Linked DNA regions of Homo sapiens: region 2 is linked to region 1. Evidence: fine-mapped expression QTL. A gene starts in region 1. The other region holds a variant in brackets. All regions are shown on one strand. Distances are from middle to middle.

Region 1 (9,586 bases):
TAAAATGTCAACAGTTATTTTAAGGAGTAGAAAGAATTGTGGGTAATTTTTATTTTCTTCTTTGTATATCTTTATGTTTTCATAACTTTCTATCATGAATATGCCTTTCCTTTGTTATCAGAGAAAATATCAATCTTACAAAATGATCTCAAATGGCTTAAATTAAAAAGTTAATAAGCAACACTCAAGTATTAACATTAAGCCATCTTTGAAGTCAGAGGTCACCCTCTATAGACATCTTTAAATAAAGGGTCACGCTAGTATCCTCCATTCTAGGATAAGATCATGAGTATTTTTCTAACCACATTTGTCCTTTTTAATGAAATAAACCAAACAAGGTCTTGGGGCTGGTTAATAACTGCCTGGACTAGACTCTAGGTCTCCTGTCTTGAGATCCAGGACTATTTCCATCACCCGGTGCCCTCTGCCCAGCCCACAAGCAACAGCATTAGAATGTATTTGTCATCCAGAGAGAGGTCATTCAATACATTTGGAGAGTATCATCAGTTCCCTAAAAATAACTTGGCAGCTCAGAAGCTCACTGTTTAAAAGACTTAAAACCAAAGGACACCCTGAGTTTAAAATGTGAACAAGCACACAGTGGGTTTAAAATGTTTGCATTCTCTTTCTTGCCTTTCGGGTTTACATAATAGAAATTAAAGTGTGCATACACTTAAAGCTACTTCTACACAGGCAGGGTGAAATTACTGGCACGGTGACACTGGCAATGAACATTTTTGTCCCTCGACACTTTGATTTTTGCCCTTGCCTGTCCCTCAAATAATCCTGCTCTGCTTTCTGTTTTTTGGATTTTCAGTGTAAAAGAGACATTATGACTTTAATGACTGAATAACAGGCACAAATTTGCATTTCACTTTATTTACCAGCTTAGCTGTGGTTTAATGCAACATGAATAGAATTCCCCCAGAGGTGAGTCTGAGCTGAACTGACTAGGTTTTTGACTGCCAATTCTTCTGCACACTAAAATAGCAGCATAACCTATCACACACATTTGTTATCTGTTACTGAGAGAGAATTAGCAACCCACCCAAAGAAACAGAAATACAGCTGATGACGGGACTTCTCAAAAGGCCAGAAAACCTGTTGGTTTTACATCAAAATGCTCACACAGATACTCAAAAGAAGATAAAATATTTCCAAACCACCAAAACAAAAGACTTCACTGAAGCCATATTTTTGTTTAAAAAAAAAAAACAAAAAAGTGCCCAGCCTCAAAAAAAAAAAAAAAGTGCCCACTTTATAGGTCGTCAATTCTAATCAAGAATGCATTTCTTCCCATCAAGCTTGAAGGCAGGCATCTTTAAAACATCAATTTTTTTTCAGTAAATATTTCTTTAGTGCCAAGTATATGTAGAACCCTCTGAAGGGTTTTAATAACCAGCAGGAGATCCAGTGACACCTAAGAGTGTCACCCTGCTCTCAGGTGGCTTATTGTCCAAAGCAATATTATCTCTGGGGTACAAAGCCCAAAAGAGTGCTTCTCAATCTTCATGAAATATTTCTCTCTTTTTTCAAAATTATTCTAAAAGGCTGTGAGCCTGAAGTTGATTTCCATGATTAATTTAAGAGGCAAGGGGAGAAGAGAAGACAGTTATACATGAATGTGAAACTTGTGAGTTTGGTTCTGGCCTTTATAGTCAGATAAAGATTTTGAACAAAGTGGACAATAATTTACAGTAAGTAATAAAATAATATTGATCTTGCCATGGAGTAGGAACCAAAACTTCAGGCCCATCCATATGTACTAATTTGGAGATGACAACCTTGTGGAACCTATTTATAACTTTTACAGTATTTTATGGTTCTTTCTTTCCAAAGAAGCACACATTATATTGCACAAGGCCTGTGAATATACAAGTATTCTCTGCCAAAAGCAGCTGACAAAGCAAAAGGATTATCCAAGCATTGTTTTTCAAACCTGAATTTGTAATGAGTAATTGTACAGAAATATTCGGTACTTAACCTTGAAACCTTGAATTCAGAAAAACTTTATGGCCCCAAGGCTACATGATTTGATGGCTCAGATTCGTAAATCCACCAAGAATGAGGATCTGGCCATTTTAACTGTGTCCACCTTGGTGCAAATGTAAAACAAAACCCACAGGGGCAGCAATGATGCCTACCACAGTGCTTGCCTGGGCGAAGGGAAGGGGGTCTTGATGAAAGTTTGTTGAGATGAACTGGGTATGAATTCTGGCTTCCGTTTAAATACGTTTGGAAAATAAGGAATCTCCATCCCTCTTAACCTTTGTTCTCAGTGACTCACGTAATACCAGTGTATTAGTAATGTTTTAATTATCCCTGGAATTCAAAATTAGGGACCGTCCAGGCAAAGTTTCAGGCAAAGTGATCAAGTATTTACTGTTCCCTTGAAAGAATAAAAACACTGCAGTCAGGGGTTGCACGGGATGGGAGGGACAATGACAAGGAGGCGTCTTATTTCCAGAAGCTGAGTTCTAGGACACAAGTATTCCAACCCGGGATCAGAATTTCCTTGTAGATCTCACCACTTTACCTAGTGAACATCCTAGCTGCTGGCTACACTCCCAGACACCCTCCTTCCCTGATATTATCACAGTCCTCTCCAGGGTGGGCTCCCAATCCAGGTAGGAAGAAAGGCGAGACAGCCAAAGGCGCCCTTCTAAGGCTTCTCTCTAAGCAGCTTCCCTTCACAAAAGGGTTTTGCCTGAGCCTCATCTACGTACAGTAATTCTTAAATGACACAAGATGGATGTTGAATATTAAAAAACACGCCTCTTCTCTTTCCCCGCCTGCTTTGTTTTTCTAACTTTTAAAAATTATCTTTCATCATACCAGCACAGAGAGTCGTTTTTGAACCTGTCCTTTAACTTAAGTAATGAAGAGAGGGTGTTTACAATTTCACTTTCTGGCTCTCATCTGTCTGTAAAATTCTTTATTATTTTTTTAATCGGGTGAAAAAAATGTTTTTAACTTTAATAGATTTCTGATTTCTCTATATCTCCCACTGGGGGTTCAAACTTAAAGAAACCAGTGACGTCAAAAAGTCAACCTCATGAGGAAGTCAGCAAGATGAAAAACGGAATTTAATGTTTTGCACAAGAATATTTGCATTCCCATTAGCCTTTGCAAATGCAACATTTCTCACCCTCTTGGGTTGACTGCAAAGGTGTCCTGGAGAGAAACAGAGTATGCACCTCTCTAACGGTTAACATACTGAATTGTTTTAATGGAATAAATGGTGCGGCTCAGGGGCGATTAATGTAGGGACTGTAGACTCCCGTAGAAAGGACTTAAAAGGCAATTGTGCACCAACAATGGTGGATGAAACCTTCTGCTCACATCAAATATTTTCATCCAAACCTCAAGTATGACTGATTGATTTTAAGGCCTAATTGAATGAATTCTCAATTAAAAGAAGTTGCAAAAAGCTGATGTAAAGTAATAAATATATATGGGGTGCCCTATGTTCTACAAATGCTTTCAGGTCTGCTGGTAGAAACCACTGGTTATGCAATAAGTTGATTTCAAAAATTATACCTTTTACATTTACATCCAGATAAAAACAGATGAGGTCAAGCCACTAAACATTCTTGTAATTCAAAGAGAAAGAAATAGATTAATTCTTTGTTTAGGGAAAAAAAAAAAAAAAGAACGACTTATGCTAAGACATCTGTACCAATCTTCCTGAATAACTAAGTTAGGGAGGAAAGACAAATTTGGTGACTGTGGGGGCTAAAATACTAACTTATGGTCCTCTGAAATAGAAGGCGGTGCCTGATGGACATAGGTATCTCCGGTTACTTGGTTTGGCTGGGCGGTAGCAATTAAAGCTAATGGTTTTCCCAACTACACCCAAGCGCTAGATCTTTCTTTTCCTTCTGGCTCTACCTCTCTGATACTTCCCCGCACTGGCTTTTTGGGGCCAAAGAAAGTTGGGGCCCTCCTTCTCACTCTTCAGACCCCAGGGTGTCCAGCTTGGGTTTCGTTCGGCCGAGCTCCTTGACCCCCCGCGCCCGGGAGGGGATTGGCCTCTCAGCGAATCGCCCCAGGCCTCTGGGGACCCCAGTTCGCCAGTCCAGGTCGCCGGCCCTGTCACCGAGGCCTAACCCAAAAAGCTCGCGTCGTCCCCTCTGGAAAGCAACGCAGCTTCCTCCTTGGGCACAGTCCCCGCACCCTGGGTCCCGGCTGGTGCTGCGCCGGGTCCCTAAGACTTTGACTGGTTAGAGCAGGCGACGCCGAGAGCCAGGCCGCCTACAGGCGTCTCCAGCCCTACCCCATCGCCGGCTACAGAGCGGGAGCCCCGAGCCCCAGCGCCGCGCCGCGCGGGGAGAGAAGCAGCTGTTCCCAACAGCTGGGGGGCGGCGGCGCCCGGCGCCCCAGGTGCTGCCGCGGCCAATCGCAGGCGTCCGGCCCGCCCCCCTCCCCAGCCGGGCGTCGACCCCCGGCCCGCGGGGGAAGGGAGCAGAGAGGTGGAGAGCTGTCCTCGGCACTCGTCTTCCAGATCCCACGGCGGGAGGGACAGACCAGAGCCGAAGCTGCGCGGAGTTCCTCGCCCCTGGCCCCGCCGCCGCGCCCCCCGCCCGCTTCGGCGCTCGGACGCTCTTCCCGCGGACCCTCCCCACACCCCACCCAAGGCACCTGATTCCTAAGGAAGAAAAATCTACCTCTAAAGCACCCGCTTCTTCGCTTGAGAACTACCCTCTCTTTTCATTTTTGGCCTCCCCGCCGGGTGAGTGGAAACCGCTTGCACATTCTATAGAACCCGATTCTAATCCAGACGATCCGGAGAATTTGTACGGTGACCGGCAGGGGGGGCGGGAGGAGAGAGCGAAGTCAAGTCTCCAGGGCCGCTGGCGACTTCGGAAGCCGCGCGCCCGGCGCTCTCGGCCGCCCCCGGCCGCTCGCCCCCGCCGCGCCGCCGCCCTCGCCCCCGGGCTCGCCCTTGGCCCCCGGCGGCCGCGAAAGGGTGCGGGAGACGCGGAGCCGGAGGAGGAGGCGCAGCCGCTGCCCGAGCCGCAGCCGCAGCCGGAGCCCGAGCCGCGGGGCGGGTGCGAAGATGCACACGACCCAGAAGGACACGACGTACACCAAGATCTTCGTCGGGGGGCTGCCCTACCACACCACCGACGCCAGCCTGCGCAAGTACTTCGAGGTCTTCGGCGAGATCGAGGAGGCGGTGGTCATCACCGACCGGCAGACGGGCAAGTCCCGGGGCTATGGATTTGTAAGTTGCACGGACTGGGGGTGACGGGGAGGGACGGAGTGGCGGCTGACCCCGGGGATCGGGAGCTTGGAGTGAGGGGCTCGGCGTGACCCGTGAGGAGCCCCGCGGGTAGAGCGGCGCTGCCCCTTCGCTCCGGGGTGAACTGAAACTTTGCTAGGGGAGAGGGTCGGCGCCAGCCTCGCGGGGTTCGGAGAAGACCCAGCGCTGTGCGAGGTCGGGGGCCGGGCAGGGCAGAGCAGGGGTGAAAGGAGAGACCTGTAATGACGGCGGGATTTGGGGTGCGGAGGGTTGCGAGGGAGGGGCCGCAACCCTGAACAATTGCATTCCCGGGCTGGATGCCGGTTGTTAAGCGCGCTGTTGCTTTGTAAAAATGCGTGTGTTCTGGTGTTTTGGCTGGGGCAGGGAGGGGACACCCCACGAGGTCTGGGGCTGTTGCCCTTGTGTCATCCCCCCGCCTTTTAACTGCAAAGGTAGGTTCTTTTAAATCATGATCCTAGGGCTCTTTGCCGAACTGAAACAGAGCATATTAAGCTTCCTTCCTAGAGATTTAAGCGTGCAAATTCAGCTGCCGAAGAGCAGGGAGCCCCAGAGTAGGACAATAGCTATTGTCGTTGGGGAGTGTTTTCGAGGTTGGGAGCGTTGGGCGGATGTAAGGCTGGACTTTCTTTAAAGCAAACGGTGCCTCTGAGGCTGAGTAGGGACCTGGGGGGCGGGGGATTCGGGGGAAGGAGGATCTAGAGTTCCAAGAATTTAGGCTTCCAAATCTCGGCTAGGCCCTACTAACACCCTTAAGATTTCGGCGGTGGGGTGGGGGGAGGCAGGGTTAGAGGGTTTCTTTCTTTTTTCCTTCGTCTACCCGCCCCCCCCCCCCACGCCCCCGCCCGCCTGTTAAAAATGGGAGATCAAGGAGGAGGGTCCAGCCAAAAGAAGCAAAGAATAGAAAAAAAGTTTGATCTCAGTTTTATCATGAATGACTTCTCCATTGTGATTCTTGATTTCCTTCATGGGTTAATTTAGAGGTTATGTATGTATGTCTGTGTGTGTCTGTTGCTAAGGTCACCATGGCTGACCGGGCTGCTGCCGAAAGGGCCTGCAAGGATCCCAATCCCATCATTGATGGCAGAAAGGCCAACGTGAACCTGGCATACTTAGGAGCAAAACCAAGGATCATGCAACCAGGTGAGAAATGTCTGTCTCCCCTACCCCCCTCTCCAAGAACCCCCCATTTATGGGTGGGATGATTCTCTAATTTAGAAGACATTGTCTCTTTCTGTAGATGTGTTTAGTAAACTTGAACCATGGCTTGTTATTCTACCAAGGCATTAAACATAAATGAGAGTTGTAAATACTCCTCTCAAGGCTTGAAATGTACCTGTGTGCAAAAATGGATCTTGGGGGTCGTGCAGGAAGAAGAGTTAGTCATGTCTCACCTGTTTCCTATATGGCATACATTTGTAGTCTGCTCTCAATTTTCCAATTTTTAGCCACCTGTAGATAATTCACATGTGGATTATATAGGCCAAATTTGTCGACTTCAGCTAATATACTTCCCTACTTAGTGGTGTCTCTCCTTTTAGCACCAGTTGCACTGTGCTCAGAGCAGGCAGTCTGACTTGAACACAGACCCAAGGGAAGCATTAAGGGGTAGGGGCGATGTCCAAATGGTAAAGGTTTTGTTTTTTTTTGAGATGGAGTTTCGTTCTTGTTGCCCAGGCTGGAGTGCAATGACGCGATCTAGGCTCACTGCAACCTCCGCCTCCTGGGTTCAAGTGATTGTCCTGCCTCAGCCTCCCAAGTAGCTGGGATTACAGGAATGTGTCACCACACCCAGCTAATTTTGTATTTTTAGTAGAGACGGGGTTTCACTGTGTTGGTCAGGCTGGTCTTGAACTCCTGACCTCAGGTGATCCACCCGCCTTGGCCTCCTAAAGTGCTGGGATTACAGGCGTGAGCCACCGCGCCTGGCCCAAAATGGTAAACCTTCAACATAAAATCACAGAGTATTAGCAATCAAAGAAAACAGAAATTGCACCTACTCAAGAACCCTATGCTACAGACAAAGAAACTGATGCTTAGAGATGAGAAATATTTTACTTAAGTCATGTAGCTATTAGTTGCCAAAAGGGAGCAGTTTTTTGTCTATGGGAAAACAATACCTCTTGGATTATTTACAACACTGCCCTTTGCATTAGCACAAATAGTTGAGAGTTGATTTTTAAGCAAATATAATATTTTCTTTGGTCAGGCAACTTTACTTGTAAAGTTTGATTAAATCATATACTCTTCACTCCTAAGCCTTTCCATCTGAAATTTTGGGAAGAGGTTGACACTTCCATCCAAACGGGTTTAAAAGGAAACTAGGTTGTCAAGAAAATGAGTGTTTGTGCAAATATTCATGGGCGTTAAAAAAATTTGTCTAATACATTGTGGGTATGTAGTATCCAGAAAAAAAACATTTTTTTTTGTGAATTTTTAATACTGGAAAGTGTAAAACCCATAATCTTCCAAAGCATTGTCTGAAGCATCCCAGAACGTTCCAAATTACAAAGACTTTTCATAGATTCTGGTTCAAAACTGTGAGAATATTTGAGATGTAACTTCACTGTCAAATCCTGCTGTACTTAATTTTATTTCATGAACATTTTCCCAAGGTCTGATTCTGTGTCTGTCAACTAAAATTTGCAGATTTTTTTAAAGTTTTCACCTTTTCTCTGTTAAAACCTTTATTTTGAATCAATGATAGCATTTATAAAACTGACTTTAAAAAATATACATACATATAGTTTCTTTAAAGTGGCGAAAGAATGTTTATCTTTTATAAGTGAAAGTTGTGATTGCATTTTACATGTAGGAATAATAAATGCCTAACCATGCACAAATAAAGAATGTGGTATATTTTGTTGTTAGGTTTTGCCTTTGGTGTTCAACAACTTCATCCAGCCCTTATACAAAGACCTTTCGGGTAAGTTGATTAATCAGGCTTTCTTAAGTTTCAGTATGACTATCATTTGTTAACGTGCCTCTTTGTTATATACAGATAAGATCATGATGTCACAGAATGGTCCTAGTTATACAATTTTATATATATTTGTGCATTTTTAATGCTGATACTATAAATATTTTTAGATGAGTCAAGTTATCTGACCAAGTATGCAGCCTCCAAACGAGACAAATTTTGAGCTTATGATTAGCAAAACAAAACAAAAATACCAGGTATGACTTGTGTACAAGACGATTGTGTCCCATCACCATTACTACTGTTCGACTTGACTCAATTTTATTTATCTCTTTCTAACCTGACAGGGCTCGTATACAGTTAAGCTAACTGATCAGAAGGATACCATGATAAGAGGTGGAATAGTTCTGTTTGGAATTAAACTCTGTAACCAGTAGACTCAGACACACAAGCTCAGATGGTGATTAACGATGCATGGATGTTGGTGTTGTTGTTTTTATTTTTCACAATAGTCAATAGCCCTTCGTGTGCTTTATTTTATTTATTACAGTAATGAAGTGGTGTTGATAGCTAAACTGTGTGCTTTTTACTTAATTGAAAAGAGCTGTAGTGAAAGTGTTTTCTTTTCCTCGGGGAAGGGGCTCTTTGCGTTTTGATTTTGGTGGTGGTGTTGAGGGGTGTTGACTTTTGACTTTGCCATGGGAAGCAAAGGGCCTTTTTTTTTTTCTTGCTTTTAAGCTGTAGCCTGTGACTTCCATTTAACCACATTTTTGTAGTGAGTGCTAAATTGTGTGATTTCTCTTTGTCAGAATACAGATTCATTGCTTGCATGTCCTAAGTTTCTGTTTTATGGGAAATTTTCTGGGAATGGGGTTCTTTCTTTTGCAATGTGTATCCACTTTTAGGCCATCTAATTTAAAGGTTCAACAACTCTCATCAGATTTTATTAACACAAGCCAGTTTTTTTGAGTAGCGTCACACTAACTTTCACCTTTCAGATCTAACTCAGGTGAACACCTGTTCATATTTATGTTGTCTTTGGGTCCTGTGATTACCAGTTTTCCTGTTCCAAGGTCCTCATTTCTCTTCCTTTCAGAGGTTATATGGGTGGGAGATCACCCCTCGCCTCAATTTATCCTGGACACTAGATTCTGTTTTGGCTCTGTTCTACCTGATCAACATGCCTGTAACTCTAACGCAGGATACTTAAATTTTCTTTTTAAATGTTCATGTTGTTGAAAGAGTGTTTTATCCTCAATAATAATTTCTCCTCTAGCTTAGGACCTAAAACATCTACCTGTGTAACCTGGAAGGCTGGAATCTGTCTACATAGATAGATGTCTACCATATGTGTCTCTAAGAATAGATTTTAAAAAGAAATTAATAATAACTTGACTTGGAAG
Region 2 (9,586 bases), 240 kb after region 1:
ACCCGGGAGGCAGTGGTTGTAGTGAGCCGAGATCGTGCCACTGCCCTTCAGCCTGGGCAACAAGAGTGAGACTTGGTCTCAAAATAAATAAATAAATAAATAAATAGTTATAAAACGTGTTACATTTATACAAAATAAATATGATCCATAGAGCACATCAGGCATCATGGATTGCCATGACAGCTGTTATTTATATTATACATATTATGTGCTCACATAATATGCCAGGGGAATATTCTATTCAAAATGGTAAAAGCAAAGCATCTACTTCACTTCTCTAATGGAAGAGAAAATGATAAAGTTTTGGTCAGATATTAAAAATGATTAAAAATCTTTTGTCAAGCTTTAAAACATATGCCTAGAAATATATTTCCTGATTTTTTATCTTATTCTTCCAAGGTTTGGGCAGCTATTAAAAAGTATATTATAACAATTATATTTTTGAATTTTAAAATCAAATTTCTTTTAAATTATTAAAAACGACTTAAAGATTCCAAAGCATAGTCCATAGCATAAATCAAGCTAATTTCTCCTCTCTGACTGTGGCCTGTCGACATTCCAGCAAAATGGAGGATAAACAGTTATAGCCAGAGTTGCAGCATTCTTGCAGAGAAGAGAAAAGGACTCCTAGAATCATCTGATTGAATGGTCTTTGGGAGGAAAAAATAAAGCAAGACCATTTCATTTGTTTGCCCACTGATCACAACTCTGTAAAAACTATGTATTTATAAAATGATAAATATCATGAAAGACTATAGAAAGATGTGGTGTTGATGTTTGTGGACACCACAGTATTCAGAGATTTTTTTTTTAATTTAATTTTTTTGTTTTTTTGAGACAGGGTCTCACTGTGACACCCAGGCTGGAATGCAGTGGCACAATCATGGCTCACTGCAACCTTGACCTCTTGGACTCTAATGATCCTCCTGCCTCAGCCTCCCGAGCAGCTGGGACTACAGGCCTGCACCACCACACCTGGCTAATTTTTTTATTTTTTGTAGAGACAGAGTTTTGCCATGTTGCCCAGGGTGGTCTAGAACGCCTCAGCTCAAGGAATTTGCCCACCTCGGCCTCAGAAAGTGCTGGGATTACAGGCGTGAGCCACCACATCCAGCCCAGAGGTTTTTCAAAAAAACCCATTCCATCTTAACAGACACAGTCCATTGCACAAAACTCCTACTTGCACCGTGAAAAGTTTATGACGACTTAACATCTCAAGTACTTTCAGTAATTGTTGTTTTTTTCTATTTTCAAATTGGATTTTGAGATTTGCACTCTGTGGGGTTTTTAGTGACTGACAGCCTGCTGTTTGAGACCTGGACTGTCCAAGGGCACGTGGCTCTACAAAATCATCCTTCCCTGAGTTAACAGTTGGAGCTGAAAGTCCCTGATCCCATCTCCTAACCTCTGCCTCCAGACCGCAGCTGTGTCAGGCAACTGCTGCCCTGTTCAGTTGTCAGGGTGAAATGCCAAACTTTGAGACCAGCGATTTGAAGAGAGTCTACGTGTGTGTGCAAGTGTGCCGGGTGGGGTGGGGTGAGTTGGGTGGGAGGAGGCAGCTGTGGAATAATCTGTCTGGAATGTCTTCTTACATTTACCATGGTAAATGGAATCTTGTCATTTCTATGAGCTTTTTTCCAACTTATTAAGACAGCTGTCAACTAGAAAGACCCCACACCAGAAACTAACTTGCTGTTTTCAGTTAGTTTCATCCTTGGGACTGGACCTCTTTTTCATATGAGTTTGTGTCATTTCCTCAGTGCTAAGTTTCAAATGCACTTCGTTGAACAAATTGATCTTTTGGCACAAACCCATTAGCAGCACTGTTACTTAGGATCCCTCGCAGTTGGTCAGAGCTGTAATATTCCTTGGCATTTCCTTCAAATCAGATAACTAAAGTCGAAAGACTAAGGCCTAGTCTTTACCCTTATAATTATTGAAATAATTGACTTTTTTCCTACAAAACTCTTCATTTCTGTGAATCTATAAATGCAGACTATTATCCTGTTCTAAAAACAGACTATTATCTGTTCAGAAAATTCTGCTCAGATAAAGGTCATGTAAAGAATTCTATGATTAGGAGAAATGTGATTATTTTATTAACTTTCGGTTGTTAAACTTGTTGACATATTTCTGTCCTTTCCTATATTTCTGAATTACTTTAGCTTTGGGATCAAATAAGATATAATTATTTGTAGAGTAGAATAAAACTGCACATGGATGAATGTATATACAGTCTTATGTAATAGTGATGTAGTTCTATTTTTTTTGTTGTTACTGTTTTTTGTTTTGTTTTGTTTTTTTGATACAGAGTTTCGCTCTGATGCCCAGGCTGGAGTACAGTGGCACGATTGCAGCTCACTGCAGCCTTGACCTCCTGAACTCAAGCAGTCCTCCTGCCTCAGCCTCCTAAGTAGCTGAGGCTACAGGCGTGCACCAACATGCCTGGCTAATTTTTATATTTTTTTTGTAGAGACGTGATTTCACCACGTTGCCCAGGCTGGTCTCAAACTCCTGGGCTCAAGTGATCCGCCTGCCTTGGCCTCCCTAAGTGCTAGGATGATAAGCATGGTAGGATGATAAGCTGCACCCAGCCAATGTAATTCTTAATAATACGGGTTTTAAAAATCCATCCTATACACTATCATCCATCCTAGCCTCTCCTGAACCTCCAGGAAAATGCAAGTCGTTGGTGGTGGTTACAATTATAGACAAGGTGGCGTTTCATTTTTCCCAAAGCAAAATGCTTTAGGATCACTTCTTTTCCTCCAGGTAGATATTTCTTTTCTTTCTGTTTCTTGGTGTAAAGGCCAAATGTCTGTTAACAAAGTGAAAGTTTAATAGCTTACTTTTGATCAAATTAAAACTCAGCCAGAGGGTATCCCGACTTATTATAAATAATGTAGACTCTGTGGCATGTCATTAACTATGAATATGTATGCCTTGTACGTTTTCAAGTCTTCAGGCCTCTTTACCTTCCTCTTGCTATTTACAAGAGAAAACTGTTCTTAAGCTTTTATATCCAAATTTTCATTTAGAACTTGTACCAAACCCACACCTTAGGGGTATTAATCAAAGTGAATGGGCAGCGCCTCAGATGATGTGTTGGTTGTCTGATGACAAAGCTCACTGTTCTCTATGGCTCTTCCCACGGAGTGGCCCTGGCCAGTGTACCTGACCACAGCTGCGTCGTTCTACTTAGTTCAGTTTGGGCTTCTAGGTCCCTTCTGGGGCTCTGGGTGGCCAGTTACTCTTATTCTCTTATGGAAGGGTTCCACATTGCTCAACAGGGGTTAGAAGTGTCATCAACTGGCTGGGCGCAGTGGCTCATGCCTGTAATCCCGGCATTTTGAGAGGCCGAGGCGGGCAGATCATGAGGTCAGGAGATCGAGACCATCCTGGCTAACACGGTAAAACCCTGTCTCTACTAAAAATACAAAAAAAAAAATTAGCCGCACAAGGTGGCGGGTGCCTGTAGTCCCAGCTACCGGGAGGCTGAGGCAGGAGAATGGCATGAACCTGGGAGGCGGAGCTTGCAGTGAGCCAAGATGGCACCACTGCACTCCAGCCTGGGCCACAGAGCGAGACTCCGTCTCAGAAAAAAAAAAGAAGTGTCATCAACTAACAAAGAAGCCTCAAATGCACAGGTAGATAGTAAAGTTAGGTTGGAAGTGGCTGTGAGTTCAGCCTGACAGAGACCACATAATTAAACCAATATGGCTTAAGCATCTACTATGCACTGAGTTCTGGGCAAGGGGCTAAGAATACAAAGATGGGTAGATGGCATTGTGGACACGATTCCTGTCCACGGAAACGCGCATTCTAGCTGAAGAAGATGAGCAATGCACCATGATAGAACAGGGGGAGCAGTGTGCTAGGGAATCCACACAAGGCATGACGCTTGCATAGACCAGGACCACGTGGAAGATACGGCCCATCCTGTAGTGCAGCATGGTTCTGGGGCCAACAGCAACCTGGGCACTTGTTAGAAAGCTCAGGCCCCTTGATTGGGCGCGGTACCTCAAGCCTGTAATCCCAGCACTTTGGGAGGCTGAGGCGGGTAGATCACCTAAGGTCAGGAGTTCGAGACCAGTGTTGCCAACATGGTGAAAACCTGTCTCTACTAAAAATACAAAAATTAGCTGGGCGTGGTGGTGCAGACCTGTAATCCCAGCTACTCAGGAGGCTGAGGCAGGAGAATCGCTTGAACCTGGGAGGTGGAGGTTGCAGTCAGCCTGCATTGCACCACGGGACTCTAGCCTGGGCGACAGAGCAAGACTCTGTCTCAAAAAAGACAAAAAGGAAAGAAAAAAAAAGAAATCTCAGGCTCTCAGGCCCCACCTCAGCCCTCCCAAATCACAACCTACTTTTCAACAGGATTCCCAGGTAATTTATATGCATAGTGAAGTTCGAAAAGCACTGCTCTACTGTATTTAAGTTGGGCCAAAGGAGTTGTTATAGGGAAATCATTCACTTTTACACGTTCATTTATTTAGTAATTCACTTCCTTGGTAACTACTTATTGGCTACTTACCATGTACCAAGCACACACCAGGCATTATATTTATACTACAGTTCTTCCGTGAAGCAGCAGGGTTTTTATTATGATGCATAAATAAATAACAGCAATACAAAGCTAGGTTGGAAAATAAGCCTTGTGAATTAGACTCCTTCCTGGGTGGGCACGAAGAGCCACAAAAGGGCTGACACTTGATTTGGATCTTGACGGTGAGCAGGAGTTCCCTAGGCAAACAGTAAAGGGAAGGGCAGTTTTGGGGCAGAGAATTCAGCATATGTA[C/T]GTAAGACATGAACAATGTACTTTGAGAGAAAGGCTGGTGGTTTTGCAGAGCTGAATGTGGCAAAAGGTGAGGCCAGAAAGGCAGGTTGGGGCCAGATGGTGAAATCCTTATGCATTATGCTAAGAAGGTGGGGCTATGTAGTGTTTGAAGTTGTTTCCTTTGCCATAGGTTTTGTTGTTTGTTTTTTGTTTTTGAGACAGAGTCTCACTCTGTCGCCAGGCTGGAGTGCAGTGGCACGATCTCGGCTCATTGCAACCTCCGCATTCTGGGTTCAGGTGATTCTCCTGCCTCAGCCTCCAGAGTAGCCGGTACTACAGCCATATGCCACCATGCCTGGCTGATACCTCAGGTGATCCACTCGCCTTGGCCTCCCAAAGTGCTGGGATTACAGGTGTGAGCCACCGTACCCAGCCTGCATGGGTTCTTAAGCAGAAAGCAACACACTGTGAATAATGACTTAGGAATTGCATAAGATAGATGGAGAGGGGAAGAGATTAGAGGCCCTGATACGTGTTGGGAGACTTTAGTGGATGGCTAGAGGGTGAGGTAGTTAGTATGTGACCTAGAGTGTGACAATGGCAATGCAAAGAGATGGAGTAGCCACTGAGTTGGAGGACAAGGGACATAAAATCTAACACAAAATTTCCAATCTGGAAGTCTGGGAGAGAATCGTGGTAATATAAAAATAGGGAAATCGCAAGGAGGAGCTGGTAGAGAAGGAAGAAAAATCTTCACCTGGGGTTTCACTGCATTGTGTTTGAGGTGCGGGAGGTATAGGAGAGACATCCAAACACGTGGAGTCAGGAGGTGAGATTTAGATCTGGAATTCACTGAAGGGGGAGACCCCGATGTACGTGTTGGGAGTCATCTACCTAGAAAAGACCGGCAAATAAATAAGATGGTTAAAAAAGAGAGAGTGAGATCAAGGATAAAACCTTGGAAAACACTATTATTTCAAGAATGGGGTAAACTAATCAAGGAGACAAGAGATAGGAGAACTAGAAGAATGGAGAGTCTCAAAGCTATAGGGAAAACAGGCTGGCCAGTGATACCAACTGTAGTAAGCTGTGGTGAATAAGGATTGGACAAAGGCTGTCATCAGCCATGTTTACCATGTTATTAGTAACCTTCCAAGAGCAGTTTCTGGAGGACTGGAGGCAGATGCAGTTTTACAGAATTAAGGAGTAAAATGTTTTTGTAATCAAAGTACTTTGGGAGGTTGAGGCGGTTGGATCACAAGGTCAAGAGATCAAGACCATCCTGGCCAACATGATGAAACCCCGTCTCTACTAAAAATACAAAAATTAGCTGGGCGTGGTGACGCATGCCTGTAGTCCCAGCTACTCAGGAGGCTGAGGCAGGAGAGAATGGCTTGAACCCAGGAGGCAGAGGTTGCAGTGAGCTGAGATCGCGCCACTGCACTCCAGCCTGGTGACAGAGAAAGACTCTGTCTCAAAAAAAAAAAAAAAAAAAAAAGGAGTAAGAAGTTTTCCTGTAATGATCTCTTGATTATTTCTGGACCAGTTGTCTAATTTGATGGATTATTTCTTATGGCTTCAATTTCTGCCTTTTGAAATTTGGGGTATTTGTGAATTTTCATTTTAATCTGTGCTATATCTTCAATAGAATAGGTGAAAAATAGTCAAATATCTCCAATTTCACACACAGTCATTAAGAGCTATACTGTGAAGCTCTAAGTAAATGTGTTCTATTTAGAACTGTTTTTATTATCTCATAAATACCTTTGAGTTTTAGTGTCAGTTGATAATGATGCAGGGAAGGTGAACCCCAAAAGTGGGGCTTAGCCAGGAGGGTTCTTGGCTTTGCCCAGGCGAGAATTCAAGGGTGAGCCAGCGGTGTTAGACAGCAGCTTCTATGGCAGCAGCAATGTGCAGCAGCAGCAGGGGTACCATAGGAACTGTGCCCAGAGTAGCAGCTCAGGGACCATTCTGCCATTATATTTATATTCACTTTTAATTATAGGCAAATTAAGGGGGAAGTTATTCAGAAAGTTCTAGAAAAGAGGTGATAACTTCCAGGTCATTGCCATGGAAAGGGGTAGTTAGTAACTTCCAGGTGTTGCCATGGCAGTGGTCAACTGACATGGCCCTGGTGGGCATGTCTTCTGGAGAGGTGCTTTCACCTCTTTCCCCCATTGCAGCGAGTCTTCAGTCTGGTTTGGCATTCAAGTCCTGCCCAGCCCCAGTCAAGCCTGCCTCATACCTTAATAAGAATCTATAAATATTTTAGAGTATTTCTTTTCTTTTCTTTTCTTTTTTTTTTTTTTTTTGAGTTGGAGTTTCGCTCTTGTCACCCAGGCTGGAGTTCAGTGGTGGCATGATCTTGGCTCACTGCAACCTCTGCCTTTCGTGTTCAAGCGATTCTCCTGCCTCAGCCTCCCGAGTAGCTGGGACTACAGGTGCGCGCCACCACACCTGGCTACTTTTTGTACTTTTTTTAAAAATAGAAATGGGGTTTCACCATGTTGGCCAGGCTGGTCTCGAAATCCTAACCTCAGGTGATCCTCCCGCCTTGGCCTCCCAAAGTGCTGGGATTACAGGCATGAGCCACCACACCTGGCCATTTTAGAGTATTAAATCTTTCTCTCCATCAATCAAAATAGTAGTAGCTTTTAAAGCTGCCTACTTTAATGGTCAGTATTATTTTATTTACCAGAACTTTTTCATAATCAAGAATTCAAAGCTCTCTAAAATAAGGGCTAGCAAGTTAATATACATTTATTGAACCTGCGAGGCGGTTGAACCTGTGAGGCGGAGGCTGCAGTGAGCGTAGATCACACACTGCACTCCTGCACTCCAGCCTGGGTGACAGAGCAAGATTCCATCTCAAAAAAAAAAAAGAAAGAAAAAAGAAGCTTCTCCAACCTCTGCTTATCACCATGCCCACCACAAGCTGGAAGTTATCCTTCCATCCTCAGCGGCTGCATAGCACTTCTTATACTCTCCATTTCTTTTGTGTTGCTTAGCATTTCCTACCTTATATGGCAGTTATTTTCTCATTCAGTAACATGTTTATGAAGCACTTAACCATGTTTCAGGCACTGTGCCACATTGAAACATGGAATTCCCTCCTAAGAGAGTTCCAAAAACCCTACGAAAGGAGGAAAGACACATTTTGGTTGAGGCTTGAAGGCTGTTTTCCAGATAGTCAGTTGGGCAAGAGCCTTCCAAACTAGACACGCCCTGAGCAAAGACTCAAAGTCTGGGAGCCAAGTGCCTGCCACGTCTGGGAACACAGAAGTATCCTCTCTTCCTAAACTATGAGCTCATTGAATGCAGGCTCCATTTCCAGTTCAGCCTGAGATCAGTAGCAGTGACTGGTACCCTGGTTCTGGGACAGCAGTGACTTGAAAACAGATAGGATTCAAACACATTTGCTAAATCCACTGTATTCATTTGTCATCACAATGAAATTTCCAAAGCGTTAGTCCATTAACTATAGATCATGTCTGTTTTTCAAAAGCTGCATGAAAATGTGTCTTTTTTTTTTTTTTAATGATGGAGTCTCGCTCTGTCGCCCAACCTGGAGTGCAGTGGTGTGAACTCAGCTCACTGCAACCTCCACCTCCCGGGTTCAAGCTATTCTCCTGCCTCAGCCTCAAGAGCGGCTGGGATTACAGGCACGCACCACCATACCTGACTAATTTTTGTATTTTTAGTAGAGACAGCGTTTCACCATGTTGGCCAGGCTGGTCTCAAACTCCTGACCTCAGGTGATCCAACCTTCTGTGCCTCCCAAAGTGCTGGGATTACAGGCGTCAGCCACCGCACCCAGCCAAAATGTGTCTTTCCTTCTGTCCAGTGATAGGAATGGAATGGACAATGCATTTTATTCAGGAACACCCATCAACCGCCCACACCTCCTCTGCTCCTGTCCCTTGTCACCCACTGCCTTTCATTCTCAGTTGGTATAAACTCAGGAAACAGAAGGTAGTATTAACTTAAGCAAAAACTGTTTTCTTAAAAAGGGAAATGGGGGAAGGTGCAGATTATCTTCTAAAGGTAAAACAAACCCTTCATAAAACAGAACACACAGGCTGGGCGTAGTGGCTCCCGCCTGTAATTCCAGCACTTTGGGAGGCTGAGGCAGGCAGATCCCCTGAGGTCAGGAGTTCGAGACCAGCCTGGCCAACATGGTGAAACCCCGTCTCTACTAAAAATACAAAATTAGCCGGGCATGGTGGCGCATGCCTATAGTCCCAGCTACCCGGGAGGCTGAGGCAGGAGAATCGCTGGAACCCAGGAGGCGGAGATTGCAGTGAGCTGAGATCATGCTACTGCACTCCAGCCTGGGCGACAGAGCAAGACTCTGTCTCAAAAAAAAAAAAAAAAAAAAAAGAACACATAGGCAAGCCCTGGCCACGGTTTATTGGTCCAGTCTGCACCCTTGATGCAAACTAAGCATCCCTAAATAAACAAAATGCATATATAATATGGAGCCAAAGGTAACTAATCTTTCTAACAGCTATTGTTTTGCCTTAACCCCCACCTCTACTATCTACTAAGTATAGATAATTGGAGAAAGTACAGTCGTTTCTGTATGCCCCTGAAATCTGAAAGAAAAAAACCTGAATTTAGTGGTAGTTCAGACTTAGGCCCTTCTGGCCAAATGAAGTAGCTGTCCAGCTAATTCAAGCCACATGTCCCTCTTGGTCTTTATATAACTGTTGGGCCTCTTGAGTTTGTTTCTTTGATGAGTATACTCTGCTATCTTTAACCCTGGAAAGTTTTCCCATGGAAAATTTAATTTTATCTTTCCTTTTTTAT

Evidence for each region.
Region 2: its variant is fine-mapped to the expression of RBM24 in nasal epithelium (TOPMed, PIP 0.99).

Annotation. Positions count from the first base shown.
Region 1 is chr6:17,276,523-17,286,108 of GRCh38, forward strand. It overlaps RBM24 (RNA binding motif protein 24), which reads left to right and starts at 4,839. Exons shown (of 4, transcript NM_001143942.2): 1 at 4,839-5,227; 2 at 6,283-6,406; 3 at 8,135-8,189. The coding sequence starts at 5,060.
Region 2 is chr6:17,517,822-17,527,407 of GRCh38, forward strand. The region is part of intron 7 of CAP2 (cyclase associated actin cytoskeleton regulatory protein 2); the gene reads left to right. Among named protein-coding and RNA genes, the nearest start is that of FAM8A1, 78 kb to the right of the region's middle. The variant C/T (reference allele first, on the strand shown) is at 4,799.